4 linked regions of the Homo sapiens genome follow. The protein of the gene in region 2 purifies or fractionates together with the protein of the main gene of each other region. This does not show direct contact. Each region holds a gene or a part of one and is shown on either strand. Other genes may lie near its edges. The genes, in order: NAP1L5, NAP1L1, MAGED2 and RPL36AL.

Region 1 (7,592 bases), on a different chromosome or scaffold from region 2:
GGTCAGTTCATCAAACTTATTAAATTGAATTGTTTTCCAGTTGATTCTCTTGGGTTTTCTATATGTAAAAAACATTTCCCAATACTTATGCCTCTTAGTTGTGTTTCAATCGTTTTTGCTTTTTACTGGAACCAGAAAAATAGTAAAATGATAGTCTCTCTCATTCCTGGATATAAGAAATCAATATTAAATTTTATTAGATTTTTTCTCTATTAAGATAATCATATGATTAAGATAATCAGAACTTTGTATGTAACGTATTATTCTGATTTTCTCTTTTGGTTGGCCTGAGCATAATGAAGATTAACTTTACCTTAAGGTTGTTTGTACTCAACAATCTGTTGTGATTAGCAACAGGTCAGTGCTGCCTTCCATTCCCTAGGATAAAGCAATATAATTTTGCTTCTTTGTAATTTTAACCCTTCAGGGAAAAGGAAGCAAATGGCATCTGATTTTTTAATTTTTCTGGAGTCCAGTTTTTAAAAAAAACTTTCTGCTTCATTCAGAATGAAGCAAACATAAAGTTGAAATAGCCTTTTTTATCCTTTCTGGGAGATGATAAAAACCTGATATTATATTGAGGAAACCAAAACAAGATAGTTTATTTAATTTCCTGCATTTCTGAATTAAAGGCCACATTCTTCTCTCATAATAAGGAATCAAAAACATAGGGAGGGATGTAGTGATGTCTCTTTCTCCCATTTTGTAACAGGAGAGGAGGATTGAATTTCCAATCACTGTCTTTATCTTTCATGTAATAATAATAGCTAAGAATTATTCAGCACTTACCATGGTTTGGATGCTATTCTATAGGATTTATATGTATTAATCCATTTGCTCTTCATAGTAACCCATGAGGAAGGGACTATTCCTATTCCCTTTTGTAGATGAGGAGAAACTGGCCACTGAGAGTATTAGCTGAGTTGCCTAAGGTACATTACTAATAGGAGGCAGAGCTGGGATTTGAATGCAGGCAGTCACAGTACCGAGTCTTTTATATATATTTTTTGAAAATACTGTTTTATTAACACCACAGTGATAAACAACTTTAAGCTTATGTTTCTTTATAGATCACTGGCTCACACATAATTCAAAACCCACACAGAAGCTAAGAGTCTTTACATTAAATATATTCTTCCTAAAAATCCTTACTGTATGCATCTGTCCTCAAGCAGTAAAATTTGATTATGCACCATTTTATAATTAATATGTCACATTTACATAGCAAAATAATGAAGGCACAGCTAATACAAGCAAACTTAAACCCTTTCTACTTCTGAGCTGGGGGTAGGGGCACACACTTGGATTGGTTCTTCAAGTATATATTTTTTCCAAACATTAGCTTCAGTGAAGAGTTCTGATGATTTTCACAGCTACACCCTAAAAGCTACATGACAGAAAGACGTCACAAGGCGCAAAGTACATAACGCTGGATACACATGCTTTACATAATTTGCTACATTCTACATCTCTTCAAGTAAATTAATATTTCTAAAACGCTAGGTAAAGTGATTTAATACTTAAACATATTTGGGGTATTTTTTACGTGTTTGTAAATAGACAGTACTAAGAAAACACAAACATGAGATTGTAACTAATGAATACATATGTTGACAGTATTTTACAGGTTTTACACCCTCCTTCTTGGAACCATGTTGTTTCTCTAAATTCAAATACTCAAAACATTTTTCAGAACTTGAAATGGCAGTTTTCCTGGCCTTATTAACAGTAGTGTCATGATCTCCATTGCAATCTTCCTCAATGCCATCAATCTCCTGTGAAGTGTAAAGCTGATGTCTGCGTTACAAAAGCAAAGTCTCAAAGATGACGTTTTTCTTGGGTTCTGCCTTCTCTGCACTGCGAAATGTCATGAGTAAAGAAATTTAAGAATTAAGCACTGAGAACGTGTTCAGTCATGGCTTGGGTGTTCCATGTGTAGCGTATGCTGTGTGATGAATGGGTTTCAAAGTGACGTTCTTTACTTCGCATCTGCTAACACCCTTTGTAAACCTCAATCCTCAGAGAAGAGACCATGAAAACATAATTTTGGGTTTAATTCAGTTTTCTTTAACACCTTTTGATATATTTATTATGTTCAAAATGAAAGTCAAATTTGAATCGAGCTGGCCAGGATCTAATTGCTTTAATTTAATCTATTTTAGGAATGTCAGAATAAATTCACATTGTATTTTGGTCAAAAACCTGAGCCTTTTTAAGTCCATCGATATTCTGGGAAAAACAAAACCAGGCTTTTTTCTTCGTGGGCTTTCTCTTCATCCATCTCTGCCCCCCTTACTTCTTGGCGTCATCAGGCATCTCGGCGTGGGCATCGTCATGTTTGGCCCCCGCGGCAGCCTCTGCCGCAGCCTCCTCCTCCTCCTCGTCTTCCCCCTCCTCCTCGTCATCCTCGTACTCCTCTTCCTCCTCCTCCTCCCCCTCCAAGGTCCATGCACACCCCTCCATCTCGCCGGTGAGCTCTTGGATCTTGGCGAGTAGGGGCTTATAGATGTCATTATACTTTTTTTCCAGAGCCTGAAATTCCTTATCAAATTTGGCTTCTATCTTATCGCATCGCTTCTGCAGCTTTTTGAGGGCCAGGACTCGGCATTTCACCGAATTAGGCAGGCTCTCGATAAAGTCATTTTTCGGCTTTGGGGCATTCTCTGCAGGGGTCTGGGGCTCCTCAGCCATCTGACCAGCCGCGCTGTCAGGGTCACCAGCCGCGCTGTCACAGTCTCCACCCTGCGCACCGCCTTCCGCCATTACCTCCTCTGCCGCTGCCTCCGCCGCTGCCGCCGCCTGGCTAGGCTCCGCAGGCCCCTGGTTTTCCGAGTCGGCCATGTTAGAGGAGAAGCCGCAGAGGTCTAGGAGGGCTCCCGCAGAGGCCCTGCACCCGAGCTGGTCCAGAGAGATCTTGCGGATGCGGCAAGTGGCGGTGACGTGCGGCCGCGGGAATGACGTTGGCCGCGGCCCCGCCTCCTGCTTTCGCGGCACTTGACTGGCTTCCCACTATCAGCTGACGGCCGTGTGCTCATACTGCACCAGATTCCTCCTGTTGCTACCCTGACATCTTCTGGGCCCTCAACACCCGCCTGTTGGACAGACACCCTGTTCCCAGCCCACCCATGTACCCACCCCTGTAGAGCTGGGCTGGGAGTGTCAGTAGCTGCCCGAGGTGCTTCTTCAGGAACTGCATAGATGGCCTCAGACCATTTTCCGTGTGCTCCTCACCCCCATCCAGGCCCTTCTACAAATGCCAGTGCATATGTCTTCGCTTTCCTCTGCATCTCTCTCCATAGCTGGCGTTTGATCACCTCTTAGATTCCTCCGCATTCCTCTCCATGCAGTGGAGGAACGGGCAAGCTGGCTCCATTCCACCCCTTTGGGGACCTGGGGTGCATGTGTGTGGATAGGGCAGCTTGCATATCCAAGCTCTGTACCTATGTGTCCACCCAACACCCCCTTGGCCATCCCACACACCTAGCGGCATATATCTTGGTGGCAAGGTCGTCTCTCAGCAGGACTCCCCTGGAAGCAGTTTTGGAGCCATTTGGGTAGGAAATCTCAGAGCTCCCGGTGTCCTGGTGTGTGTTCTAGAAGATCCTACAGAATCTTTGGCCTGTGGGAAGGACTAAAGCTTGAGGAGGGCTGAAAAAAAGCAAGTCTTTCTAAAGCATGGGGCCCAGGGCCAAGGCCCCCTCTTATCTTGGTTAAAGCATGTGCCATCTATCCCACCCCGCTCACATTCGTCTTCCCTGCCTTCCCCCAACACCGTCTGCTTCCCTGCCTTCCCCACTATCTGTTTTCACACCTTTCCACACCACATCTTCTCCCTCCCTCCTGCCCCTCCCCCGCACTGACTTATGCCCCACCTTCTGCCCATCTTCTTCCCCGCCTTCTTCCCCACTCACTGCCTCCTTCCTCACCTTCCCCCCGCCGCACTGTCCTTTTCCCCACCTTCCTCACCCTCTTCTTCCCCACCCTCCTTACCCTCTTCTTCCCCACCTTCCTCACCCTCCTCACCCCCTTCTTCCTCACCCACTGCCTTCTTCCTCACCTTCCCCCCACCGAACTTTTTCCTCACGCTCCTCACCCTCTTCTTCCTCACCCTCTTCACCCTCTTCTTCCTCACGCTCCTCACCCTCTTCTTCCTCACCCTCTTCACCCTCTTCTTCCTCACGCTCCTCACCCTCTTCTTCCTCACCCTCTTCACCCTCTTCTTCCTCACGCTCCTCACCCTCTTCTTCCTCACCCTCTTCACCCTCTTCTTCCTCACGCTCCTCACCCTCTTCTTCCTCACCCTCTTCACCCTCTTCTTCCCCACCCCCTAGCCCCACCCTCTTCCCACCCACCCCCAGCCCCGCCTTCTTCTTCCCCACCCACCCACCCAGCCCCACCCTCTTCCTCCCCACCCACCCACGCAGCCCCACCCTCTTCTTCCCCACCCTGCCCACCATCTTCTTCCCCACGATCTGTCTTCTTCCCCACCTTCCCCCACGGTCTTCACCACCTTCCCCCAACCGTCTTCTTTACCCTGCTCACCATCTTCTTACTGGCTCACCATCTTCTCTGCCTTCTTTCTCACTCCCATATATCATCTCTTTTGATGGCTACAGCTGCCTTGAGATTAGGAATGATGTTTCTCATTTTACAGATAGTAAACTTAGAAGCAAATACAGTGAAATCATCTTACTGCATGTATCACTTAATTGGCAGATGCAGGGGCAGAAAACAGGCCTTTTGACCCCTATAGTATGGATGTTGTGACAGACTTTAAAAAAAAAATCCCACATTTTGGTTAAATTCATTTGACTAACTTAACTTGCTTAAAATATTTAGGGCATGTTCATCTTTCAAGATTTTTATTTTCCTGTCTCAACAGATCTTAAAACTTAGTGTTAAACCAGACTGTTTTTTAAAAAGTCTGGCTTATTGAGGTATCATTTACATAACAGTAAAATTTGTCCTTTTGGGCGTGCTTTCACAAGCAAATACAGTAATGTAAGCACTGTAGTAATCAAGATATAGAACAGTAAATAGTCCCCTAAAAGTCCGTTGTGGCCCTTCCCCAGCATCCAGCCCTGGTGAGCACTGTGCTGTTCTCTGTCTCAGTACCTCTGTTTTTTCCAGAATGTCAGGTAAATTGAATCATATGAATGTAGCCATTTGAGCCTGGCTTTTTTTTTTTACTAGCAGAGTACATTTGAGATTGATTTATGTTGTTGTATATATTAGTAAATTTATTTTTTATTATTTTTTATTTTACTTTTTATTATTGGGTAGTATTCCCATTTGTGGTGTTTGCAGTTTTTCATAATTGTGAATAATGCTGTGATCATTCATCTACAGGTTTCTCTATGAGCATGGACTTTTATTTCTCTTGGGTAGACACCTAGCAGTGGGATTGCTGGGTCATACAGTAAATGTACGCTTAACTTCATAAGAAGCTGCCACACTGTTTCCCAAAGTGGCTTTAATCTGTTTAGTGTTGCTAAAAAGGAAGACCGGAGGCTGCTAGCTAAAAGGTTCAAGATTGGGCATGTAGATGGTGAGAGTCTCAGGCTGCTTCCTGAGACTGTTGAGCTATTTCTACCAATAGTCCCTTAAGTGAAATCTAGGTTTTTCTATCAAGCTCCTCAAAACTCTTTCAGGCTCTACCTATTTCCTCATTTCAAAGGCACATCTGCGTTTTTAGGTATTTGCTGTTGTAGTACTGTACTTCTTAGTACCGAAATCTATATGTCAGTGTTCTCCAGAGAAACAGAACCAACAGGGTGTGAAGCCGAGGGGGGTGGGGGCAAGGAGGGATTTATTTTAAAGAATTGGTTCATGTGATTGTGGGGGCTGTCAAACCCGAAATCTGCAGGGTAGGCTGTAAGGCTAGAAATTCTGGCAATAGTTAATATTTAAATCTTGAGTCCAAAGACAGTCTGGAGGGAGAATTCTTTCCTCTTTGGAGGACCTCAAGTCTTTTTCTCTTAAGGCCTTCAGCTGATTGGATATGGCCTACCCACATTATGGAGGGTAACCTGCTTTACTCAAAGTCAATGAATTTAAATGTTCATCCCAACTAAAAAAATATCTTAACAACATCCAGACTGGTGTTTGACCAAACAACTGGATGCCATAGCCTAGCCAAGTTGACCTATAAAATTAACCATCACAGTCTGTAATAAAAATTGTTGTGATGGTGTTTCTCTTGGGTAATTGTATCAGAAAAATGTCATTAGTTTAGTGTCATGGGTTTCAGAGAAGTGAGGTGTTATATACGGTGTGAGAAACTTTCAGCATCAATGATTAACATGCACAATAATCTTTTTACATTAGTGGCTTTATTTTAAAGATTGCACAGTTATACCATTTTAAAAATGGGAAAAGGGAGGCTTACTAGTTAGATACAGAAGATGGCAGAGCCTGGATTTGAACCCCTGTCTGCCTCACTTATCCACTGTATTACACCATTTGTTGGCTAGTTATTGGTGTGGATGGTGAACATGTAAAAACTATCTGCTTGGAGGAAACCCAATAATTCAAATGTAGCTTTATGAAGTATTAAATTACAGTGATGGATAAGTAGTAAATAACTATCTTCATGATGTGAAGTTTTAAAATTGTTTTTAATCTAAAATACAAAAAGTTAATGTGACAAACATTTGTATATATGATCCACAGTCAACAGGTATTTGCTTCAGATTTTTTAATAAAAGAAAAAAATTACTGATACCGCTGTACATACCCTTAATTCCAAATTACTGATACTGTTGTACATACCCTTAATTCCATTCCCCTCTTCCCGCCCTTCTTTCTTACACAGACAAAACTCTTATGAATTTGATATGTTTTTTTTATGTTTTTATACTTTTTATAATAAACATGTATGTTAAAACAGATTTTTTTTTTTTTTTTTGAGATAGGGTCTTGCTTTGTCACCCGGGCTGAAGTACAGTGGCGTGATCATGGCTCACTGCAGCCTTGACCTCCTGGGCTCAGGTGATTCTCCCACCTCAGCCTTCTGAGCAGCTGGGACTACAGGCATGCACCACCAGGCCTGGCTAATTTTTTGTGGAGACTGGGTCTTGCCATGTTGCCCAGGCTGGTTTTGAATTCTGGGCTGAAGCCATCTGCCTGCCTCAGCCTCCCAAAGTGCTGGGATTATAGGCATGAGCCACTGCACCTGGCTAGACAAAGATCTTTTTACATTAATGTCTTTGTTTTTAAAAATGAACACTTACACATCTTATGTATGCATCATATTTATAATTTCATACTCATAAGCAAAATCTCATATCCATAAACAATATGATAATACTAGTTAATACTTACAAAGTAATTGTTATACACCAGCCTTGGTTTAAGCACTCTTACATGTATTCACTCATTTAATCCTAAAGCAGTCCCATGTGTTATCTACTCTTACTCTCCCCCATTTTACAAATGAGGACACAGGCATGGAGAAGTTAAATAACTTGCCCAAGGGTCACAAGCTCTGAGTGACAGAGCTACTACCTTTTATAAGTAGCATTGTTTTAAGTGTTAAAACACAACTTACATAAATGCCATCATATTTTACTGAACATGCAAATACTTGATTT
Region 2 (7,430 bases):
TGCTCACGTACGTAACCACGGACGGGTTATCTAACCACTCCACACCTATTTTTTTTCCTTGTTAAAATGTTGATGCTACCTGTCTCTAAGTAAATTAAATGAGCTAATAATACACACAGAATTTAAAACAATGCCTGAATAATCAATCAGTGTTGCCTATTACATTATTTATCCCTGTTATGCTCTTCTGTACCCTCTTTAGAAAATAATTCCAAGACTGAAATTATAACTCTAGACAGGTGTGGTGGCTCACACCCATACACTCAGCACTTTGGGAGGCCAAGGCAAAATCGCTTGAGGTGAGGCATTTAAGACCAGCCAGGGCAACACAGCAAGAGCCTGTCTCCACAAGGAAAAAATATATATAACCCTGTTTCCCAATAAAAATTAAAATGTACAAAACTTCTGAATAAGTAAAAATATATACAAATATGCAGGAAGTAAAAGGCAGAGTTGGTAACCAAAGGTATAGAAGCCATTTTCTATGGCAAGCCCACTAATGTACTCTAATGTTCTGTAGTCATTGTGCTAAACGACTTACATATGGATAGGTGTAAAGTAACAACTCTCTCCTTCTAACCCCTATTCTGCCCAAAAACTTATTTAGATGAAACTAGTTTGAAATGGAACTTAAAATCATCAAATTATAACAGGTTCCTTTGTGTAAACGCTGTATTACTCTTTGACCCCTTTACCCTTTCCTTCCTTTATAGCTCTCATCACAATTTAACATTCTACATCTAAGCAACCAATTTGCCTCTTTTGCTCATGACATAAGATACATGTCCATACAGGTGCTAGATAGTTACCCAAAGACTAAACTGAGAACACAATTACAGGTTTGATTAAACTTGAAGATCTGAATACACTGATCATTAATATTTTGATATTGATGAGTCATTCTCTCTAATCCTTTGTTTCAAATTTACAACCAAGAAGTGAATAAAATATTGTATTTTGACATCTTCAGACCTTTGAAGTCCAACAGATACTGCTTCTTTAGCCCCTTCTACAAAAAGACCCTTAGTTTTGAATATATTTTGAGAATTTAGAATCAACTCAGTTTTACCAGGAGCCAACAGGAGCAAGCTGAATAAAATGAGATGGCATTTTGGATTACATTAGTTATGGTACAGGTATTCGTTTCAAAAATCTCATTAAAGGCCAAGTGCAGTAATTTACCATATTCAGTATTAGCTTTATAATTCTGCAAATCAATGGGCCTAATATAAAAATAGGCACTTTGTAGCAGATAAAATTTAGAAAGATATTCAAATTGGTATAGTGAAAACTTTTAAATTTCTATTTACTAACATAATGTTGACTTGGAGAATCTATGAAAGTCAGGTTTTATGACAGAAGATGTCCAAGTCCACCTACCAGGGTTTAGTTCCATACATTCTCCAAAGGACAGTATTCTTAGAACTAAACTATAGATTTAGGCCATTTATTTAAACTTGGGCAACTTCAAACAAGCTTGAAACACAAGAGTGCCTTGAAAATAACTGTAAAAGTCATTTACTTCCCTTCGATTTTTAAATGGTACCCTATACATAAAAGGTTTTTCCCTTATTCAATCAAAGGTAATGTATATTACTTCCAAAGTATAGGAGTATTAATTTAAGCTGACCAAAAAAAGAGGACCCAGATACTCGTTTCCAAAGATGTTTTGAATCCACCTATTTTCAAAAGGCCAAATTTCATTTTACAGCTCTTGTGAAACCAGGCAAGCAGTGTAAATTTTAAAATGCAGCAGTGGGATATCTTCAAATGTAGCAGTGAGATTTTTAAAATGTAGTTGTTTCAAAACTGATCAGTGACCGTCTAAAATACGGGCTCCTTGAGGACATCCTGCGCCTGGTTCATCCTTTTTGCACTCTCAAAGTCTAGCCTTCCCAGATGGGACCTCAGTCCCAGCCCCCCTACACTGCCATCCCCCAGATCTTTAGGGCAGTAGGGTTCATTGACAAGGTTGCAGGCTACAAACTTGGCAAAGTTTATACTAACACCTCATTCCATCCCACCTCCCATCTTAAAAAGGAAACCGTTAAGTATCTTATTCTAGTGACTTCAATAAAGGAACTAATTTATAAGACAGCCAAGAACAATTAAAGTCATAAAGGGCCAAACATTTTATTTTCATCTAAGAACCGTTTGCAGGGGTGGTCCGATCTTTTGGCTTCCCTGGGCCACACTAGAACTGTCTTGGGCCACACGTAAAATACATTAACTAGCTGATGAGCTTTTTTTTCCAAAAAAAAAAAAAAAAAAAAAACCTCATGAATTTGTGTTGGGCCACATTTAAAGCCGTCCTGGGCCGCGGGTTGGACAAGCTTGGTTTAGGGGTTTAGATCGATCAGGATCAATACTCCCCAAATAAAAAACCCTGATCAAGACACCCATCTAACAGTACCTGGGAAACACAATAACAACCTTTTGCTAATAACAGTTAATATAAGCGCTATATACGCGTTAACTTTTTAAAATACTAGCAGTGGAGGCCCTTCCTTATCATCAGCTAACATCCACAATCTCTGGTACCAATAAAAAGATTAAGACCAAAGAGAAGCAGGGAAGAGTTTGAAACCCAGGGACAGGGCTTACTCGCTTACCCTTCCTTTTCACATTCCACCGTCTCTACAACTTTCAAAGTAAGCACAGACCGAGGGCAAGGGTCTCCAACCAGGCCCAGCCAGTGGCCATGAAGCCCATTACCACGTGTGGAGCGAAGCCGCCGGGGGTTTCCCCTCCCCGCGCGGCCGCCCCCAATGGGCGGAGAGCCCGGGAGCGTCGCAGCCTCCCCCGCCCCCTCCCCGCCTCGGGGACTCGTCCCTCCACAGCCCCTCCCTCCCGTCGGAATTCGCAGCCTCCGCCGTTCTTTTCATCTCCCAGCGGCCTCCCTCCTGGTATTATTTTTGAGGGAAAAGCAGGGGGGTGTCCAAGAGGCGGCCGGCTCTGCACTCGGCCCGGCCCGTACGCCGGGGGCCTCCCGGTCCTCGCGGCGCAGCCGAGTCTCAGGGCACCCGGGCGTCACCGCGGCCTCGCTCCGGTCCACGCGGAAAAGACGGTGGAGCTCAGAGAACCTTAGGCCTCCAGGCCGCGCCAACCCCTACGTCGCCTCAGCCGTCCCCGATAAAAGCGCTGGTCGGCCCCGGGGCCCCTCTCAGGCTCCGGGGTCCGGACTCCGCGGTCCTGTCCGACCTCACAGGACGACCCCGGAGGCCACGGGCGGCCAGCGGCCCCGACTCCCGGCTCCCAGTCCCTCCATCCCTCCGGCCCTCCCATCTGCGCAGGCCGCCCAGCCAACACCACGTTCCCCCTTCCCTTCCAGGCCCCCATCCGTTACCGGCGACTAGTATGGGGAGCCAGGCGGCCGGAGCTGCGCAGGCAGTGACTCAGGGCGGCAGCGGCAGCAGCAGCGGGAGGAGCAGGAGGCGGCGCCGCGAGCAGATGGCGCTAAAAAAGACCCAAGAGCCCGCCGCTCGCGCTCATATACAATTAGCGTCAGCACGTAGGGCCCTTTCGCCGCCCTCCTCCCGGCCTTGTAGTCTCCCAGCAACGCGAGCGAGAGGCGGGTCCAGGCCGGGTTGCCTAGCAACTGAACCGTCCTCCTTCCCCGGCGACCTCCATACCCCCACCGAGGACTCCTGCAGCCCCGAGGCCCAGGCGCCGCGCTTGGGCTCCTCTGGTTCCCGCCGGTGTCTAACCTCCTCTGTTAAGCACCCCACCATATCTTTTCTCCCTGCTGAGCCGGAAAGGAAATTTCAACCCCATCAGTTGTGGGGAAGGCCTGGCCCGCGTGCCCGGCGCCCGGCCCGCCCCGCCCCCTTCGGCGTTGTGCTGGGAACGCTCAGGGCTGGCGCCAGTCGCCTGGTCCCTCGCTCGCCGCAGCCTAGACGGCGGACGCTCCCTGTCAAGGCCTAATTCCTGCAACTCGCCGGCCCCCGGTAACCGTTTTCCTTCCCCGCCTAAGAAAAACAGTTTTTTCCTCTAGACCACTTCGGCGGCCTCTTCTGACAGTTTTGCTTCTCCTATGCCAGCGGGTCTCCGCGCCTTTAGGGGGTGCTCGTCATCCTTTGCCCCCCAACCCCCCGCCACATCCTCGTAACTGATGTACAGTCCGTCAGTTCGGCTTCAGTTCTTTTGACGGATGAAAATGGCATATTTGTGCATTCTCTGGATGCGTTATAATGAGGACACTCAGTACGTCCGTTGTTTCATCTTTCTGAAAAAGTAAATCACATTAAATCCTCAGGCTTGTAAAACCTCATAGCTAATTTTCAAGTGATGATGAATTGACTAATACTAACTCAAAAAGTTGTTCTCAGAGTATGGTCTGAGGGTCCCCAGACCCTTTCATGGGGAAGGTCAAAACTATTTCCATATTAATGTCAAGACTGCCTTTTGCATTCTCATTCTCTCACAAGTGTACAGTGGGGTTTTCCGGAGGCTACGTGACATGTGATAAGGAAACAGACTGAAAATAGAAGCAGATAGGAGAATCCAGTCATCTGCGGTTAAACCAGACGTTAAAGAGATTTGCAAAAACTCGATTTGGGGGCAAGGGGGAGTAGTTATTTTTCATATAAAAATTATTTTTTGTTAATATTTGATTGCTTTATTGTTTTTAAATGAAATACTCTTAAAATTTCTCACTTTTAATTTCTGATATAAATATCAGTATCAGTAATGCACATAAAAGTTCTTTGGGGTCCTCAACTTTTAAAGGAGTGTAAAGGAATCCTAAGACCACAAAGTTTGAGAACCTCTTCTCTAAATCTTGCATTTATTGAAACTTCAAACTGCCTAGAATCCCCTATTGTAATCCACACATTTAGCAACTTTATCTTCCGTTTTAGGGGATACAATGTTTTCCTTGGCCCTCCAGAACCTCATTGAAATTATTTGCCTTCCCACTCTATACTGCAGACGACTCTGTTTATTCATTCATTTTAGTTTTTCATATACAATTCCTTTGTTGTTCTCATAGCCTATTCCTGTACACCCTTCTCAACAATGATGTAATGATACAAGGAGCATAATAGCATCAATAATGGATCTTCAGGAAGAACCCACTATACATAAACAAGGTAGACCAGTGCTCAGTTTGAACATAAATTTGACACATTAATTTCAATAAGAACTTCAGGAATGTTGCATTTTAATCAAAGCTGTGCACGATGCAAGGTAATTAGCATATTAAAATGAACTAAATAACTTTCACTTTCTTTCCATAAATCTTTATGGTAGCAGAATTTCTGAGACAAAATTGAGAAGTTAGCTTTTGTGGTGGTTTTTATCCCACACCAGAGAGCCTCATCAATTTTCGGCACTTCGCTCATGAAGGCTCTGGATTTTTTAGGTTTCACCACCCCCCCACCAACCCCTATAACTTAGGTGTTATCATTACCAGTACATATGCTCTTTCCCCCTTTTCTCCAGCTTCCTCTTCTTTTTTCAGTGTATCCTAGCCAATCTAAGAAACTAAACAATAAAATATTTCTAATAATGCATGCCTTTGTAATATAGTCTTTTGAACCAGTTTGTAAATCTAAGTCTTTGCCATTAAAGTTCAGGGAAGGGCAGACATTTATGCATTCATTCAACAAATATTTATGTCAGGCACAACTTCGGACTCTGGAAATACAGCATTTAGTAAGAAAGACACGGTTCTTGATTTTATTGAAGTTATGGTCTAGTGAGGTGAGGCAAATGATTAGAGATAAAATAATTTTACTAATAAAATATTAGTAATAAAACAATTTCACTTATCAATAATAAATAATTGATAAGTGAATGCTATAAAGAAAATAAAATGAGAAAAGGGGTAGGAGGTGACTGACCTGAAGATACCTTTGAGCTTTTTTTTTTTTTTTTTTTCGACGGAGTCTCACTCTGTTGCCCAGGCTGGAGTGCAGTGGCGCGATCTCGGCTCACTGCAACTTCTGCCTCCCGGTTTCAAGCAATTGTCCTGCCTCAGCCTCCCGATTAGCTGTGACTACAGGCAGGCGCAACCACGCCCAGCTAGTTTTTTTGTGTTTTTAGTAGAGATGGGGTTTCACCATGCTGGTCAGTCTGGTCTCGAGCTCCTGACCTCAAATGATCCGCCTGCCTCAGCCTCCCAAAGTGCCGGGGTTACAGGTGTGAGCCTCTGCATCCGGCCACCTTTGAGCTTTTTACATTGGCCCCTCTTATACCCCCAAATCACACAATGTAGTTAACTCATCTAACTTAATTGCAATAAATGGTGACCCTGGTCACTGATCTTGGGCCATGCGAAATTTTCTGTTGCAGTTCCTTTTCTCATGCTCTCTTTGGAAGCATATATACTAAAATTAAAGGTCCTTTTTTCTCTATCTCCCATGATTTTCATTTGGTAGACTTTTATAGCATTGTAGCCTGGAGGCTTAGAGGGGTGGCTTTGGAGTCAAACAGCCTATTTTGTCCCCATTTTTCTACCACTTAATAGCTGTGTAACTTTGGATAAGTCAGTTAGCCATCCCAGGTTTCATTTTCCACATCTGTAAAATGGGGAAAATAAGCATGCATTTTTCATAGGGCTGTTGTGAAACTTAAAAAAATTTTTTTTTTTTTAAGTCAAGAGGGATCTTGGTATATTACCCAGGCTGGTCTTGAACTCCTGGACTCAAGAGATCCTCCCACTTCAGCCTCCCAAAGTGTTGGGATTACAGGCATGAGCCACCTTGCCCAGCTGTGAAACTTTTGGAGACAGAGTCTCACTCTGTCACCCAGGCTGAGGTGCAGTGGCGCAATCTCGGCTTACTGCAACCTCTGCCTCCCATGTTCAAACAATTCTTGTGCCTCAGCCTCCCAAGTAGCTGAGACTGCAGGTGCGCGCCACCACATCCCACTAATTTTTTTGTATTTTAGTAGAGATGGGGTTGCACAATGCCCAGGCTGGTCTCAAACTCTTGAGCTCAGACAATCCACCCGCCTCGGCCTCCCAAAGTGCTAGGATTACAGGTGTAAGCCACTGTGCCTGGCTCAGCTGTGAAACTTTAAATAACACATTTAAGTTGCTTAACATAATGCCTGACATATATAGTGACCGCTCAATAAAAGGTAACCATTTTTAACCTCTTACTGAAGTTTTGTTTTTATTTTTGTTTTATTTAAAGGTTTAAGGAACTACCCCGAAGTCTTCTGATAGTGTCTGACACTTTTTGTGACATATTTTATTAAAAGCTATCTAGTCACAGCTTTTAAAAGACATTTTCCTGAGCTGAAATAATCCACACCAATTACCACAAAAATATTATAGTCAACATTTCTCAATATTGGATAAGAACTATGAAGATCAACAAGAAATTTGATGACAAAGATGGTATTTTACCTGTGCTTGTGTCTGTGTTTCAGCCCCTATGTAGTAGAAAAAAAAGCATAGGCTTTAACATCAGACAGGTATAGGC
Region 3 (8,205 bases), on a different chromosome or scaffold from region 2:
AGCACCCGCTAATCCCACCCCTGTAGTAACAGCCTGACTCAATAGATGTTGGCCATGCTGAACCCTGGATTTGTTTCTCACTGACTTCCAAGCAGGTGTTTCATCTGCCTAGCAGGCCAGGAGCAAACCAAGGGTGGGTGGAGGCTGAGTCTTCTTCTCTTTCTGTGCCCACTACTGGCTCTGCTTGAACCATCCTAGACAAGCCGCTTCACCTCTCTGGAACTCAGCTTCCTTCTCCATAAAATTGGGGCTATGAGAATTACTTTCAAGATTTAATGAGATAACCTGCATAAATGTGCTTAGCTCAAGGCCTAATACAGGGCAGCTACTATGTAAACATAAACTGCATTACATTCAGATTGCACCTCCCCATCAGTCTGCAAGCTCTCTGAAGACAGGAATTACATCACATTACTCTCAGTGCCCCCCACAGCCCTGATGAGCACAGGGATCTTTCTAAATGTTTGTAGAACAAATGAATCAACTGAGAGAGGAGTAGAAAACCAAGGGTGGTGACTGCAGAGGTCTTACCTTTCGGGCTTTCTTGGCTTTGACCTTGGGCCGAGTATCCTGATTCTCCTGAGACTGGGCAGCTGCACTCTCAGGCTCAGGTTCATCTGCTGGGGCCTGAGAGGGTGCAGCCTCAGTCTCCTGAGCCTTTGTATTGACCTTTGTATCAGCCACATGGCTGACCTTTTTGGTCTCAGTGGCAGGCATTGTCACAGCCTGCGGGTCAGCATTCTGTTTCTTGGTGTCAGCTGCTAGACTCTTGTTTTCAGCTGCCAGAACCTGGGTATCAGTCAGCTGAGTAGTAGATGAGGCCTGGGTGGCAGGTGCCTCCCGAGCCTCTGGGGTCTTTGAGACCTCTGTGGCCTTTGAGACCCCAGAGGCTTTTGAGACCTTCACATCCTCTGAGACCTCCAGTGCCTTTGAGGCCTTCGGTGTCTCTGGGACCTCCACATTCTGGGTCACTGTCAACAGAGTCTGCATCATCGAGCTACTGTCCTTTTCTGAAGCTTCAGCCTGCAAGAGGAAGCAGGGAAGTTCATAGACCTTCTCCTCACCCCCAACTAAGCAAATGGCTCCAAAATTCCAAGGCCACACTTCTCTGACCTGTACTGACTCCTACCTGCGGTGTGCTCTGACCACCTCAGCCCAACAAGGCCTCCCTTTCCTCTGAGCAAGAACTGATGGCAGAAGAGGGGCCCGCCCACCTTCTCTCCCTCCCTCCACTGGGCAGGGGGACACCCAGGCAGGAAAGTAGGTGGAGAAGGACAAGGATGGGAGGGGAAGAGCCAAGGGACTTGGGGGCAGCAACAAGGGCTGGAGAGGAAAAGCAGCTGGGGAAAGGACAGAAAGAGGCCTTACCTGGAAGCGAGTTAGACCTGCACCACTCTCGCTTGTGTCAGACATGTCTCAATTTGGCCTGGCAAGAGCTGAGCCTGAAGGGGAGAAGGCCTGGGTCAAGTTGAAGCCCACTGAACGTCCTCTCCCCTGTTGTGCCTGGAGGCTGATCCTCACCTTCCGTAGGTCCCCAATTCCAACCCCCTCCACCACCCCCAACGACTCCGTTCTCAGATACAGGAATTCAAAGCTTCTAAGTCTCAATTCTCTGCAGCCGCACCCTCCCCTTCTCCAGGAAGATGTGCCAGCGCGGCAGCTCTGAGGACCCCGCCCCTTTTCCCAGTGCACCCCCCACCCAGCCGCAGGTCGATAGAGCGCATGCGCGTCGGCTGCAGGGCCGCTCTCAGCCCCGCCCGCTTTCCCAGCACGAGCCCTTTCTTTGATGTCCACCGTGCACATGCGCATTCAGCAGCTGGCTCTTCTCAGTGCTGGCCCTTCTCAACACGCCCCTTTCTAGCGAAACATAGTGCGCATGCGCAATGGTCGTGGTCTCAGTCTGGCACTCTGCCCCAACACACGCCCCTCTCCAGGTCCGCAGTACCATTCGGTCCCGCCCCCTGCCCAACAAGCCTTCCTCCAAAATTGTCGCAGTGTCTGGTGGACCCGGCCCCTCCCCTACTCACGCCCTACAGAGTCCAGTGTCTCTTGGCCCCGCCCTTCTTCCTAACACGCCCCCCTCCAAACAGGCGCATCTTGGTTCCGCCCCTTCCCTATTACACCCCCTCCTCAAATAAATACTGAGCTAGTGATTCCATCTTGGGCCCGGCCAAACCGGGTCCAGTCCCCTCCCTTCCCAGCCGGATGGATCCGGTACGATCCGGTCCTTAAGGCAGGTTTTCTCCAGATCCCAGAGGGTGGGGCCGACCCCTAGCGGGGCTCTCATCCAAAAGCCGACCCGGCTGCTCACCTCGTCCTCCTACAATTCCCGAGTGCGTCCACTCACTCCAAGCCCCTCCGAAACTCGGAGACTGCCCTCCCCTCTCTAGGCCGGAAGTGGTCCCGCCCCTTTCCGCCTCCCTAGGGGGCCTCCGTCCCAGCCTGTCTGCCCCTCCCCCGCTCCCTGCTCCTCATTCCTTATGCCCCCCTCCGTATTCCCTTAGCCTGGCTCCCTACTCCCTATTCCTACCTCACATTTCCTATTTACTCCAGAATTCCTTCTTCCCATTTCTTACATCCTCCTCCGTGTTACGTTTGCACACCCTGCCCCTCAGTATTCCTTAATCCCTCTCTGCATCCCCGATTCTCTTCTCTGGATCTTCACTCCCCCTCAGTGTTCCCCTCCCTCCTTGTATTCCTCGTCCCCCTCCCAACATTCCTGGTTCCCCGTTTTTCTCCCCTCCTCCCTCCGCTAGTCTCTGCTCCCAGTCTGTACAGCCTACTACTTTCTCAGTCGTCCTCATTGCCTACACCCCACTCCAGGTCACCTCTGCTTCAGCTGCAGTGGTGCAGTAAGAATTGCTCATCTGCCTGGCTATGGGTTCGAGGGGTCTGGAACCACTGTCTGACCTCCATAAAACCCCAATATCAACGCCCCTCACCTTGTCCTCCAGCGAGTTCGGGATGCGTCTGCCTTCTCTAAGTCCCTCTCGAAGTCTCAGCCTCCTGGACTAGAGCTGCAGACAGCCCAACCCAGCCCAGCCCCTTTCCGCAGCCCCCTGCCACCCCCCCTCGCCTTCCTCGGGGGTGGGGCAATGGGGCCCCGCTCAGGGCTGTCTGACGCCAAAGCCCATGTTTATGCCACTGTACCAGGCTCAGTCTGAAGCTCTTCCAACTCAAACCGCCCCCTGAAAGCAAGTCATTCATTGAATTTATTTTTATATCTTCATTTTTTCTTATTACAAAGGTAATATGTTGTTCTTTTGTTGTTGTTGTAAAAATTCAAACAATGCAGTAATATATAACACACCAATGAAAGGCCACTCATCTCCCAGAAATAACCACTATTAACATTTTGCTATCCAGATTTTTTTTCTATTCGTATACTAATTATTCAGGTTCTCTCTCCGACAAATGGTACACTATACATACCTTCTGTTCTGCGACCTGTTTTTTTCCAGTTATATATAAAACATCTTTCCGTTAGTGCACATTTTTCTAAACAGCTGCATGATCTTTTCTTGCATAGATGTCCCATAATTTATTGAACCAGTCCAGTACACATGTACATTTAGATTGCTTGGTGCACTTTTTGTTATTTATGGTATTTTTTGCTAGCTCAAATGCTACAAAAAAGTCTTCCATTTTGATGCAAAATTTGTCAACTTACTCCTAAAAAGTAAATGGATAACATTCCCGCCAGCAATGTCTCTCCTGTACATGTCACATATTACAAATATTTTTCATGTTATTTATGATAATTTTTGCCAAACAAAAATGTTTAATTATTATGTAGTCAAATATATCCATTTTTCCTTCATCACAACTGGATTCTGCTGCTTGCTTAAAGATGCTTTTCACACTCCTATAACAAACCCCGTTTTTTTTTTCAAGCACTTTTGTGGCTTTATTATTTACATTTAGATGTTTGATCATTTCAAAATTTATTTTCTATACGGATTCAGCTTGATTACTCTTCAAAATCATAGTCTCTTACCTCTACATCATGTGCAAACTAATCCATCTTTTCCCTCTCTGCTTTGAAATGGCACCTCTATCACATAATAAATTCACATAACCAATTGGATCTGTTCAAGAGAACAAAATAAGATGTAAAATAATAGGAAATAGACAAATCATCATTAATTACTGAATATATAAATGCAGACCTGGAAAACCCAAGAGCATCAACTAAAAAGTTATTAGAAACCATAATAAAATTCAGCACAACTGTTAGTTGCAGAAATAATATTCAGTGCCTTTCCACATATAAATGTAATTCAAATGGACACAAGTCTTCTGCTTTATGTGGTCACCTTTTACTATGTAAATAACATATAATGAATCCCTGTGTTCCATGGATAATTCAAGATAGACAAACACACAAATTTCTTGCATATTCAAGGCAGGCTTCTGTTTTCCTGTCTTTTCTCTTTCTCTGAATTATTGCTTTCTCCAAGTGTGTGATATCAGTTCACCATGTTCTTGCCTCCTAGATTTTCTCCCTTATCCACACTAGACATAGCCCCTCCTTTTCTTCTACTTCTGGCATCTCAAATTCCCCACCCCTTCCAAATCATGGCAAGTTGGCAAGTTTAGAATGCCAAGATGAGGACTTTGGTGTTGATCCTGAGAGCACCCAGGAGTTACTAAAGAATTCTAGGCAAGGATACAGCATAGGTTTGTGTTTTAGAAAGAACACCTAGCTGCTATATGGAGTGTGGATTAGGTGTTGTCTTGGAAACAGGGAGAGTGCTTATGACTTTTGTAGTCATCTAGGTAAGCAATGATTGTGCTTTGGCCTAGAGTGGTGGCAGATAGTGAGAAGTGATTGAATCGAGGAGATAGTAAAGAAGTAAAAAGTAACTGGACTTGAGTAACTGGATTGTGAAGAGAAGGGCAAGGAGGAGGGGAGTGTCAAAGGGAACTCTTGGCGATCTGATTTGAGAGATTGTGTGAATGGTAACCCCTTTCACTGAGATCAGGAATACTGAAGGAAGAGCGGGTTTGAGGAGCAGGTTAGACAAGAACTGAACATTGCTTTTGAGGCACCTGTGGCATGTCCAGGTGGAAATGTACCACAGGCAGTTGAATATACATATCTGAAGCTCAGAGAAGTGGTCTAGGCTGAGGTTATAGATCTAGGAGTCATCAGTACATAAATAGTTCTTGAATTCCTGAGAAAGGGTAACAGCACCCCGGTGAATGCGTAGTGCTAGAAGAGACATGGGCCCACGGAAGAGCCCTGCAGTCCAACAGCATCTTTGGTATAGGTGGAGGAAAAGAAACTCATGAAAGAGGCTGATAAGGAGTGACCAAAGAGGCAGAGAGAAAAACAGGAGAGGGCCGGGCATGGTGGCTCACACCTGTAATCCCAGCACTTTGGGAGGCTGAGGTGGGCAGATCACCTGAGGTCAGGAGTTCAGGACCAGCCTGGTCAACACGGTGAAACCCCATCTCTACTAAAAATACAAAAATTTAGCTGGGTGTGGTGGACCACACCTGTAGTCTCAGCTACTCGGGAAGCTGAGGCAGGAGAATCGCTTGAACCTGGGAGATAGAGGTTACAGTGAGCCGAGATTGTGCCGCTGCACTCCAGCCTGGGTGATAGAGTGAGACACCATCAAAAAAAACAAACAAACAAACACAAAAAAAAAAACCGGAGAAAGGAGTGTCACAAAAGTAAGGGAAGAGATTGTTTCAAAAGGAGGGAGGAGTCAAGGTCAATAGTGATGAATGGTGCCAAGAATCAAGAAAAGTAAGACCTGAAAAAATGTCTGGGGATTTTGACGATCAAGTGGTGGTCTCTGGTGACCTTGGAAGGAATAGTTTCAGTGCACATGTTTGTGGCATAGCTTGCTAATTGCTTACCCTAGTATTCATCCTCCTCTTCTTCCTTAGTAATAAGTCACCTGATTTTTAGCTAGATACATAGCCTCCCAGAATAAAGGCCATGAGGACTAGGGTCACACTCTAAGGATACTGGATTAGTAAACTAAAAAGAACCTGGATCCGTAACAATTTCATGAAGCCAACGTGAACTGCCTACCTCTGGATTTCTTTTAGGTGAGGCAAATAGATGTATGTCTTATTTAAGCTATTGTTATTTCAGAGTCTATTCCATGCAACAGTTTCCTGATTGCAGTGAGTTGAGATATGAATAGCAGGTGAGGTATACATGACAATGGGTATGGAATGCTTTCCCAAGAAACGCCTGAGCTTGATTTCAAGGCTCTCCCAAAATCCAGCCCTGACTGCTTTTCCAGCCCTTTTCCTGCTGTTTTTCTGAGAGTACTAGATATAGTTGCCTATATTCCACCTAAACAGAACACTTCACTATTACCAGATATGCCCTGCCTTCTCTTGCCTAGGAGCCTTTGTTATGCAATTTTGTCCCCATGGGGAACACCCTCTGCTACAACTACCCTTCTGGTATATCTATGCTCGGTTACAACCTCCAACATTTTAAGTTTCACAATGTTTTAGGTCCCAGTTGTGGTCTTTGGGATCCTGGGGTAATTTAAAGGAATACAGAGTCAGAACGTTAGGAGATATTATTGGATTCAGGAAGTCAGAAGAAATCTCAGTCCAAATCCATCAGAGAGGCATTCCCAAAGATTGTCAAACCCAAACTTCCCCAGACCCCTCTCAATTCCACCACCTTCATAACATAATACCATTAACAACCTTATCTTATGACCTGGGGATCAGAGGATAGGAGGCAGCCTTATCGGGGGAGAAAAGACAAATTAGTTCATAATCTTTACCCTTTGACCAGAGAGATTTCCTCCCACCTTCTCCTTGTGAACTCTTGGAATCTTGATCTTCAGCATTCACCCATAAACTCTGAAGAACCTAGGTCACTGGGTCTCAGGCCCATTTCTAGCACCCATAAATCAGTAGAGAAATATCTGAGACCATATAGATCCTACATATCAACTAAGAGGAAAGATGAAAAGCCGTTATCATCAGGCAGCTCTGTTCTGGAGATAAGGAAAGGCAGGCTAAGGATTGCTTAGTGCAGAATGTAGAGATGGAACTGTCTAGTCCCACAGGCATCCAAGACTCCAGACTCCTGAAGCTCAAATGGAAAGCCCAGAATATCCCCACCACCAATCCTATCCTAGCACATTTACTTTCTCCTAAACTATACAGAATCCGTATCTCTGAATTTTGGAAAATTTGGGAGAGGGTAGCAAAGGTTTCCTTTTAAGGCTGCCTGTCATTTCTTTAGTCATTTAAACCATGCAGCTCAGCATAGAAATCAACTTTAAATTGGACATCAGACTTTCTTGTTCTTCAGATTTCCATAACCATTCCCACCACTGGGAAAGGCCTAATAATTGTTCCTTCTCCTAGGCCCCATGCCCCACCCCTGTTGGACCCTTTCTGTCCCCCAACATGCTGGCAACTTCTCTCCTTTCCATTTCCAGGCTTCTATATCCTCTCTCTCTCTCTCTCTCTCTCTCTCTCTCTGTCTTCCCCCCACCTCCCCCAGGGTCTCACTCCGTCACTCTGGTTGAAGTGCAGTGGTGTGATCCCAGCTCACTGCAACCTCCACCTCCTGGGCTCAAGCGATCCTCCCACCTCAGCCTCCAGAAGTAGCTGGGACTACAGGCACATGCCAACACGCCCTACTAATTTTTGGGGTTTTGTTTGTTTGTTTGTATTTTTGGTAGAGATGGGGTTTCACCATGTTGCCCAGGCTGGTCCAAAATTCTTGGACTCAAGCGATTCACCCGCCTCAGCCTCCCAAATTGTTGGGATTACAGGCATGAGCCACCGTACCTGGCCTATGTCTTCTTTCTTGAGCTGCTGGTGAAATCTCATTTTTTCCCCTTTTATATGTAGGGCAATTTAGTTAACTTTGTTTCACTCTAAGCCCTAAGGGTTACCTTTCCACAGCAAAAATGACATTTTGTCAAACAAAAGACAAATTTCCCATAGATGAGGAAACCTGCTACCCACTTTTGGACTAACCCTCATTCTCCCCTGTTCTCTGTATATTGAGTCCTTCCTCAGCACAAGCTTGTGAGCTATGATTAGGCCATTCAACAGAAAATGAGCACCAACTATGTATTAGACACCTCTCCAGAGGTGGCCCTTGCTCTTAAGGGGTTTATTTTTATACTGTGTGAACATTAGCCTCATTTCACAGATGGCAATATTAAAAGTGAGAGGGGTAACTTGCCCAAGGCAAGGCGA
Region 4 (7,502 bases), on a different chromosome or scaffold from region 2:
TCAGCTCTATATTTTGTCACACAAACTATATATATTTTTGTTACATAAAGTATATATAATAGATTTAGTTATTTAGTAATGATTTTCAAAATTCAATTTTGAAGTATTTCTTAGAAGTTATTGAAATATTAAAACATCTTGTGGTTTTATAGAAATTTAAGAGTAAAACTGGAATTTTTAAAATCTGGCAATTTGCTCTGATAGGAAAATTGCCTTCATTACATTATTACACAGAAAAACAAAAAAAAGCCAGTGTTTCCTAATCACTTTCTTTTTTTTTAAGAGATGGGTCTTGCTATGTTGTCCAGACTGGATTCAAACTCTTAGGCTCAAGTGATCCTCTCATCTCAGCCTCCTGCATAATCAATTTCCTTTATAACACCTAAAATGTGAGGCAAAGAGAAGATCCTAACAGGTTTTTTTCTTACAAAAAATTTTAGGGCAGCCAAAGAAAATGAAAGGAAGGAAATACAGAAAGGGAAATATTTGTTGATTTAATCACTAACCCCAAAGCCAGGAGCTGATCTATTTGTTTCAAAAACAGCTACTACTTCACACTCTGGCCTTCTTAGCTCAGTCCTGGAAATAACCTAATTTTTTAGTTCTTTGAACTAGTGATGTCAGGTCAGAGTACCAGAAATAGGTACAAAGCCTCCTGATTCACCCTTATTTATAACCCCCAGGCAAAATCTTGCACCAGACTGGGCCGTGGGTAAGTCTAAAGGTAGCTCGTAAAGCAAGAGAACTATTTGCCTCACCTTAGATAAGCATATGTGCTCTTAAACTACTATGAATCTTAAATTGATGCAATAATTTTGAGACTGCCATTTAATAGTTACAAGTTTAAGTAACTTTTTTTTTTTTTCTTTAGATGGAGCCTTGCTCTGTTGCTCAGGCTGGCGTGCAGTGGCACGCTCTAGGCTCACTGCAACCTCTGCCTCGAGACTCAAAGGATCCTCCCACCTCAGCCTCTCAAGTAGCTGGGACTACAGATGCACCACTACACCCGGCTAATTTTTTGTATTTTTAGTAGAGATGGGTTTTCGCCATGTTGCCCAGGCTGGTCTCAAACTCTTGAGTTCAAGCAATCTGCCTGCCTCAACCTCCCAGAGTGCTGGGATTACAGACATGAGCCACCACACCCAGCCCGTAATATCTTTACACAGAAATTAGTCTTTTATGAGAAATTCTCGGTTGAATGCAATTACAAATTAAGGGAAACTTCTATAAACGTCTACATTAAATATGGAGCAAAATTTAAGCCTGTTTCCTATAATTTTCTGTATCTGTCCTTTTAAAACGTATGATTTAAGTTAAAGCTGGCACTAGAAAGTATTTCACTTTGGCATGACTGAACTTTGTATCATTTCTGGCTTTCAAAAACAATTTAGGCTGTATTTCCCTTACACAGCAACTTTTTATCATTCATTTTCAATGCCTGGGTAATTTGAAAGCCAAACAGTTTCTTGCACAGGGAATGCATTGTCATAAGCTGGGTTTTATTTCAAACTCAATTATACAATGTAGCAATAGTAAATATTAAAATGTAATGCTAACTCAAAACTTGTAGAATGCCTTCACTGAATTTTGGTATAAAGAGTAAACAAAACTTATTCTGCAAAAGGATTAGGAACCTTTTTATGCAAAAATGAGTATTTTATTTTGTCAGCACTAAAAGAAAAAAAAAAACAAAACCACTGTATTTCTACATTGAGGTGAAAACAATGTTTAAACTTTCTTATCAATCAAATACATTCCAAAAGAAAGTGTGTTCTATGAAGGTTCCAAAACACACTCAAAACACAATAGTACAGGAATCTAATACTGAAAATGACTGTTCTGACAGGGTGTTTAACAAACATAACTTTTAAATTATTAAACCAGTGAAGCAATCCCTTCCTAATAAGTGTGTCAAGAGAGTGAAACTGGGTTTGTTCCATTAATACCCTAACAATTTCATCGTAATACTTTTTACTGCTATGACAGTTTTAAATAAATTTTGCTGTACTTAAAATAGGTTTTGAAAGTGGAAAAGTGTACAAAGTTTCAGATAAAAAGATTAATAAATGCAATTTAAATAAAATTTCCCCTCTTCTCTCATATCAACAATAATCAATTTTAGCAGATAACAGATTGAGCTTTAAAACCCTACTCCCAAAATGAAACCTTCAGTTTTAAATCTTAATCAGACATAACTGGAAAAGATTACTATGTATTTGGACACCTTTTACAAGATTTTGTTTTTGTATTAAAGCAGAAACCAGTTCCTAAACTCTTTTATTCAATTGTATGTCCTGTTTGGACAAATATCAAAAATAGAAGACTGTCGCTTTTGTAACTGTGATTTTCACTGCAGTCTTCTATAACTTTTACAGAGTTCATGGTCCCTAATATCTCCCCACCCTCCATTTTTTCTAGGTGGGGAAATGGCTACCACAGTAAACTTTTCACTGATAGTTAGAGTTTCTGGAAACATGTATTGTTTGTTATTATTTAAGAGTGACTCAATTTGGGCACTCTGAGTGGATGGTCTACAGGTTTTCTTGTGATGCATACCACAGTCTCCAGCATGAAAGATCCTAGGAATTTGAGGAACCAGCACTTTCCAGAATTTTGGAAGACAAGATACAGTCAAGTATTGAAGAGTCCAGTCCCAGTTATAATCATCATAAGTACAGAAAGTGTCTGTGCACTCGATCAGCTTCTGATAGGCATTCCGGGTCAAGGCTAGACCCATATTGTGCTCTGTGGATTTCCAAGTTTTCACATCTACCTTGTCAGCCATGCCATAGAAACTGCGACTGGCACTATAGGTCCCCAGGGAGAGAACATCACATTCAGGGCACTCTTGCTGCTTCAGTTTCCACATCTTTTTGAAGACATGGTAAAAGTCTGGGGCTAAGTAGTGATCCTCTTCTAGGAAAAGTATAAGGCCAGCATAATCTCGAAGAATTTTCACTCTTTCCCACACAAAATGCAGCTTCCACCACCAGTGATGTTTGGTCTGGGAGAATTTGGCCTCTCTATAATGGCCGAAGGAGTCGGGATACTCAGCATTGATGCACCCCAATTTCAAAGCGGCATTCTTCGGCAGGTCTCTGGGACAATCTCTAGGGTCACTACCTGGAAACTCGTTAGGGTACAACTGAATGCTGAAAGGAAAGAACACCTGCAGAACCGGACAGAAATTCACCCCGGCGATCAGCTGATTGATCTCGGTCGACCAGAAGTCATGGCTAAAGATGACGAGGACGTTGTCAATTCCCTGGGCTTTTCGAAGTGAGTCCAGCAGCAGTCTGAGGTATTCGGGCCGGTTATGCACCTGGACCACCAGCACCAGCTCCCGGGGGGCCCAGGTGCCAGCCTTATCTACATTCCTCAGGGTCTGATCAAAGTTCAGCTGGTACACCAGGGACCGGTACCGCAGCGTCAGGTTGTCCGCCTCGGGCTGGGGGACCGCCGGGACCAGGGAAGCCGCCGACACGTTGGAGACCCTGCGGATGCCCACAGCCACAGAGGGGTGGTCCCCACCGCGGCCGCCGGCACCCCGCGCGGGTTCGGCGTCCAGCAACGGTGGGGCGAGGGCCTCGTTCTTCCTTTGTCGCCCATTGCTGCTCCAGAGGACGAAGCCGCAGGCGGCCACCACGAGCGTCAGGATTAGCACCTTCCGTTTGTAGATGCGGAACCTCATGGTCTCCAGGGCCGGGAGCGCAGGCGGGCGGGCGCGGAAAGGAGCAGCTGCTTCTGCACGGAAGGGGCGGGCGGGCGGCGGCCGTCGCCTTGGCCTGTCACGGTCGGAACTGGCCCCCGCGGCTGCCCTCGCTAACTCATCCCGGGCCCCGGGGGTCCTGGGGCCCGAGACCTCTCATTTACCCCGCGCCGCCTGCGCTCCACACATCCTCGCCTGGCAGCTACAGCTCGAGCATCGGCGCCGCCGCTAGGAGCCGCGGCTCGGCTTCGTCTCCGTCCTCTCCATTCAGCACCACGGGTCCCGGAAAAAGCTCAGCCGCGGTCCCAACCGCACCCTAGCTTCGTTACCTGCGCCTCCAGCGGCCCTGCGTCCTCTGCGCTCTCATCCTTACAGGGGCCCTAGACGGCCAGAACTGAGCGACGCGGCCTCGCCTCACTCCGGCGGGGACCGTTATGACAACCCGCAACTGCCCCGCGGCACACCGCGGCCCTCCGGCCCACACCCCTCCGGCCCGCCCCTTAGACCGTTGGTTGGTGCTTTCCAGACGCGACCGAAGGCGCCTGACCGCCGTGGCCGGCTGCCTATTGGTTTGCAGTACTGTCGCTCAGGTGCAGTTCCCACTTCCGCCTGTTTCTTCCCTTTCCTGTTAGGCGAGAGCTGCGAAAGGCGAGAGCTGCGAAGGGCCAGGTGTCGGGCGCTGTTTCTCGGTAAGCTAAGAACGAGGCTGTAGCGGCTCCAATAGGAGCCTCCCTTGCTCAGAATCCTGGGTAGGACTAGGCCTTCTTAGGAAAGGGAAGGCGAGACCTATGGCCCTCGCCGGCCTTAGTTCGAGAGCAGGCTTCTCCCTTCAGGAAAAAGGTCTCAGGCATGGCGGCTATAGAATCGCGGGGCGCGCCGGCTTGATAAGGACACGTCAGCCCTCGAGGCTGCTGACGGGTGACTGTGCTTCGGAGGGGAAAAGTGATACTACGCTGATGTGGTTCTCGTAGAAGGAACGGGGCGGGTCGTAACCGTAGCTACAACGTCGCGCGCTGCCCCAGCCATTCTCTAGAGCTGGAAAATGGAGGAGGTGGGTGGGGGGAAGGGGGTCAAAGAAACTCTGGTCCTTAACTTCCTTTTCGGAAGAAAATTAGATGAACCGCACTTTTCTTTTGGAGCAGTCACAATAAATTAAACTCATTTCGTACGGAAAACGGACTGTATTGGGCCTCCTAAAGCTGCTGCTGTCGGTTTTCGTGAGTCTTGTTCTATATGAGAAAAGAAGAATGGCTCGGAGCATTGTTAATTATTTGAGATGTGCAAAATTTGCCGGGCCCAGAGAGACAGCAGTATGGGACTTCAGACACCTCCCCACTTAATGCCTGGCATTTTATTCCTGACTAGCTGCTTCACCCATTATGTCCGCGTTCCTGGAATTTGTCATGAAAAGAATGATGTATAGCCAATCAATCGCTTGTGTTATTTTAATGTAAATTCTTGGTAGACAATTTAGGAACTGCCATTTTTTCCTCTAAAAACCCACTTGCAACTGCTGCTACTCAGGGCATTTTGAATCTGTGCTCTGGGTTGCAATCCTCAAACTTGCCCCAAATAAACATTCTACTTATATGAATTGTGCCTCAGTTCTTTTTTTTTTTTGAGACGTAATTCCGCTGTTGTTGCCCAGGCTGGAGTGCAATGGTGCGATCTCGGCTCACGGCAACCTCCGCCCCTCCCCACCCCGCCCAAGCGATTCTCCTTACAGGTATGCACCACCACCACGCCAGGCTAATTTTGTATTTTTAGTAGAGACGGGGTTTCTCCATGTTGGTCAGGCTGGTCTCGAACTCCGGACCTCAGGTGATCCGCCCTTCTCGGCCTCCCAAAGTGCTGGGATTACAAGCATGAGCCACCGTGCTCGGCCTTGCCTCAGTTCTTTAGGTCGACAAATTAGTCCTCCAGTAATTTAAACGAAGTGTTTCAAAAAGGTATGTACTTGTATGTGCGTTTATTCATATGGAAAAAGAGTACGTGGTGGATTTATATATTACTCATTTATGTGTACGGTTTTCCTGTATATACTTGTATAGCACTTTCACTTTTCGGAATGTTTAACGTCTGCTATCTTATTTTAAATATTTTACTACAGTTTTCATCATATAGACAAAACAGCCCTGCTGCAAAGATGGTCAACGTACCTAAAACCCGAAGAACCTTCTGTAAGAAGTGTGGCAAGCATCAGCCTCACAAAGTGACACAGTATAAGAAGGGCAAGGATTCTTTGTATGCCCAGGGAAGGAGGCGCTATGATCGGAAGCAGAGTGGCTATGGTGGGCAGACAAAGCCAATTTTCCGGAAGAAGGCTAAGACCACAAAGAAGATTGTGCTAAGGCTGGAATGTGTTGAGCCTAACTGCAGATCCAAGAGGATGCTGGCCATTAAGAGATGCAAGCATTTTGAACTGGGAGGAGATAAGAAGAGAAAGGGCCAAGTGATCCAGTTCTAAACTTTGGGATATTTTTCTTCAATTTTGAAGAGAAAATGGTGAAGCCATAGAAAAGTTACCCGAGGGAAAATAAATACAGTGATATTCTTACGCAAACTTTTTGTGGTTTTTACTTATAAATAGAATTCCATGTTTAGTGTAGTCCCACCTCAAACTTTACTAACAAGTTTATATATGTATGAAGGGAAAATACTACTTTACTACTTTTTGTTTTCTGGTCAATTTCAAATGTTGAATGAATTCATAAACATTGAGCAGCTTAGAAGGATCTTTAAGATTTTGCAAGAGAAGGAACAAGATAACGCTAGGCTTGTGTATAGCAGGCTGGGTTGGGCAAAGGATGGAAGTTGGGGGATAGTAAGAGCTGACCAAATATTCTGTCTAGTAGGGGCCGCTAGCCAGGTAATGTGTTTCCTGTTACACTAGTCAGATTTAGTACTCAACAGCCACGTGTGGCTAGTTTATTGGACAACACAGATGTAAAACATTTCCACCGCAGAAAGTTCTTTTGGACAGTACTGTTAGAGACTGTGGCCTTGAATATAAAAGGATAGTTCAAAATTGACTTCACACTAAAGTTCTCAATCTAGTGAAAGTCCAAGATAGCATAAACTGTTTTTTGAACCTCTTAGAACACTCTGGGAGGTACTCAAAAAAAAATTTTTTTTTGAGACAATCTGTCACTGTAACCCGCACTGGAGTGCAGTGGCACATTCATGGCTTACTGTGGCCTCTCAGGCTCTGTAGCTCTGTAGGTCCTGCCTTAGCCTTGGAGTAGTTGGGTACCACCATGCCTGGCGAATTTGCCTGGCTAATTTTATTTCTTTTTTTTTTTTTTTAAAGATGGGGTCTCACTCCTGGGCTCAAGCAATTCTTGAGCCTAGGCTGGTCTCAACTCCTGGGCTCAAGCAATTCTCCCATCTCAGCCTCCCAAAGGGTTGGGATTACAGTGTGCTACTGTGCTTGGCCAGAACTTGACAGTTAGGAAGGTTTAGGAGTTATGACTGAAAACAAGAAGGTTGAAATTCACAATGAAAAAAGTTGAGCCTTGTAATTATGAAAGGCAAGAAAAGTTCAGTATCAAGTGAAAAACTGGGAAAAGGTAGGGGTTATAAGAGGTCAAATTCTGCCTTTTGTATATGAATTTAAGTTGACTAAGATACATGGGAATGACAGTAGTTAGAGGAATGCAAAGGGCTAGGGTGTGTAGGAGTAACAGATGGTTTGCACATAATCCCAATAACTGACTATTATAGCTGCATTTGATTGTAAAAAAAAATGTAAAAATCATGTATACGAGTTTATTTTTAAATACATCACCATCAC

The links.
Region 1: the proteins of NAP1L1 (region 2) and NAP1L5 purify together in Homo sapiens (affinity purification with mass spectrometry; 5 studies listed by BioGRID and IntAct, with this or other methods). This does not show direct contact.
Region 3: the proteins of NAP1L1 (region 2) and MAGED2 purify together in Homo sapiens (affinity purification with mass spectrometry; 5 studies listed by BioGRID and IntAct, with this or other methods). This does not show direct contact.
Region 4: the proteins of NAP1L1 (region 2) and RPL36AL purify together in Homo sapiens (affinity purification with mass spectrometry; 3 studies listed by BioGRID and IntAct, with this or other methods). This does not show direct contact.

Annotation. Positions count from the first base shown.
Region 1 is NC_000004.12:88,694,914-88,702,505, forward strand, and holds NAP1L5 (nucleosome assembly protein 1-like 5), read right to left. Parts: upstream 2,917-7,592; 5' UTR 2,842-2,916; coding exon 2,293-2,841; 3' UTR 1,000-2,292; downstream 1-999.
Region 2 is NC_000012.12:76,081,221-76,088,650, forward strand, and holds the start of NAP1L1 (nucleosome assembly protein 1-like 1), read right to left. Parts: upstream 3,466-7,430; 5' UTR 3,347-3,465; intron 2,723-3,346; exon of another isoform or gene 2,613-2,722; intron 1-2,612. UniProt on the Homo sapiens protein: Histone chaperone that plays a role in the nuclear import of H2A-H2B and nucleosome assembly.
Region 3 is NC_000023.11:54,802,540-54,810,744, reverse strand, and holds the start of MAGED2 (melanoma-associated antigen D2), read right to left. Parts: upstream 3,001-8,205; 5' UTR 2,943-3,000; intron 2,400-2,942; exon of another isoform or gene 2,312-2,399; intron 1,665-2,311; exon of another isoform or gene 1,522-1,664; intron 1,443-1,521; 5' UTR 1,414-1,442; coding exon 1,369-1,413; intron 1,024-1,368; coding exon 532-1,023; intron 1-531. UniProt on the Homo sapiens protein: Regulates the expression, localization to the plasma membrane and function of the sodium chloride cotransporters SLC12A1 and SLC12A3, two key components of salt reabsorption in the distal renal tubule.
Region 4 is NC_000014.9:49,617,458-49,624,959, reverse strand, and holds RPL36AL (ribosomal protein eL42-like), read left to right. Parts: upstream 1-4,333; 5' UTR 4,334-4,398; intron 4,399-5,819; 5' UTR 5,820-5,855; coding exon 5,856-6,176; 3' UTR 6,177-6,430; downstream 6,431-7,502. Other genes in the region: MGAT2 (alpha-1,6-mannosyl-glycoprotein 2-beta-N-acetylglucosaminyltransferase precursor), read right to left, coding at 2,348-3,691.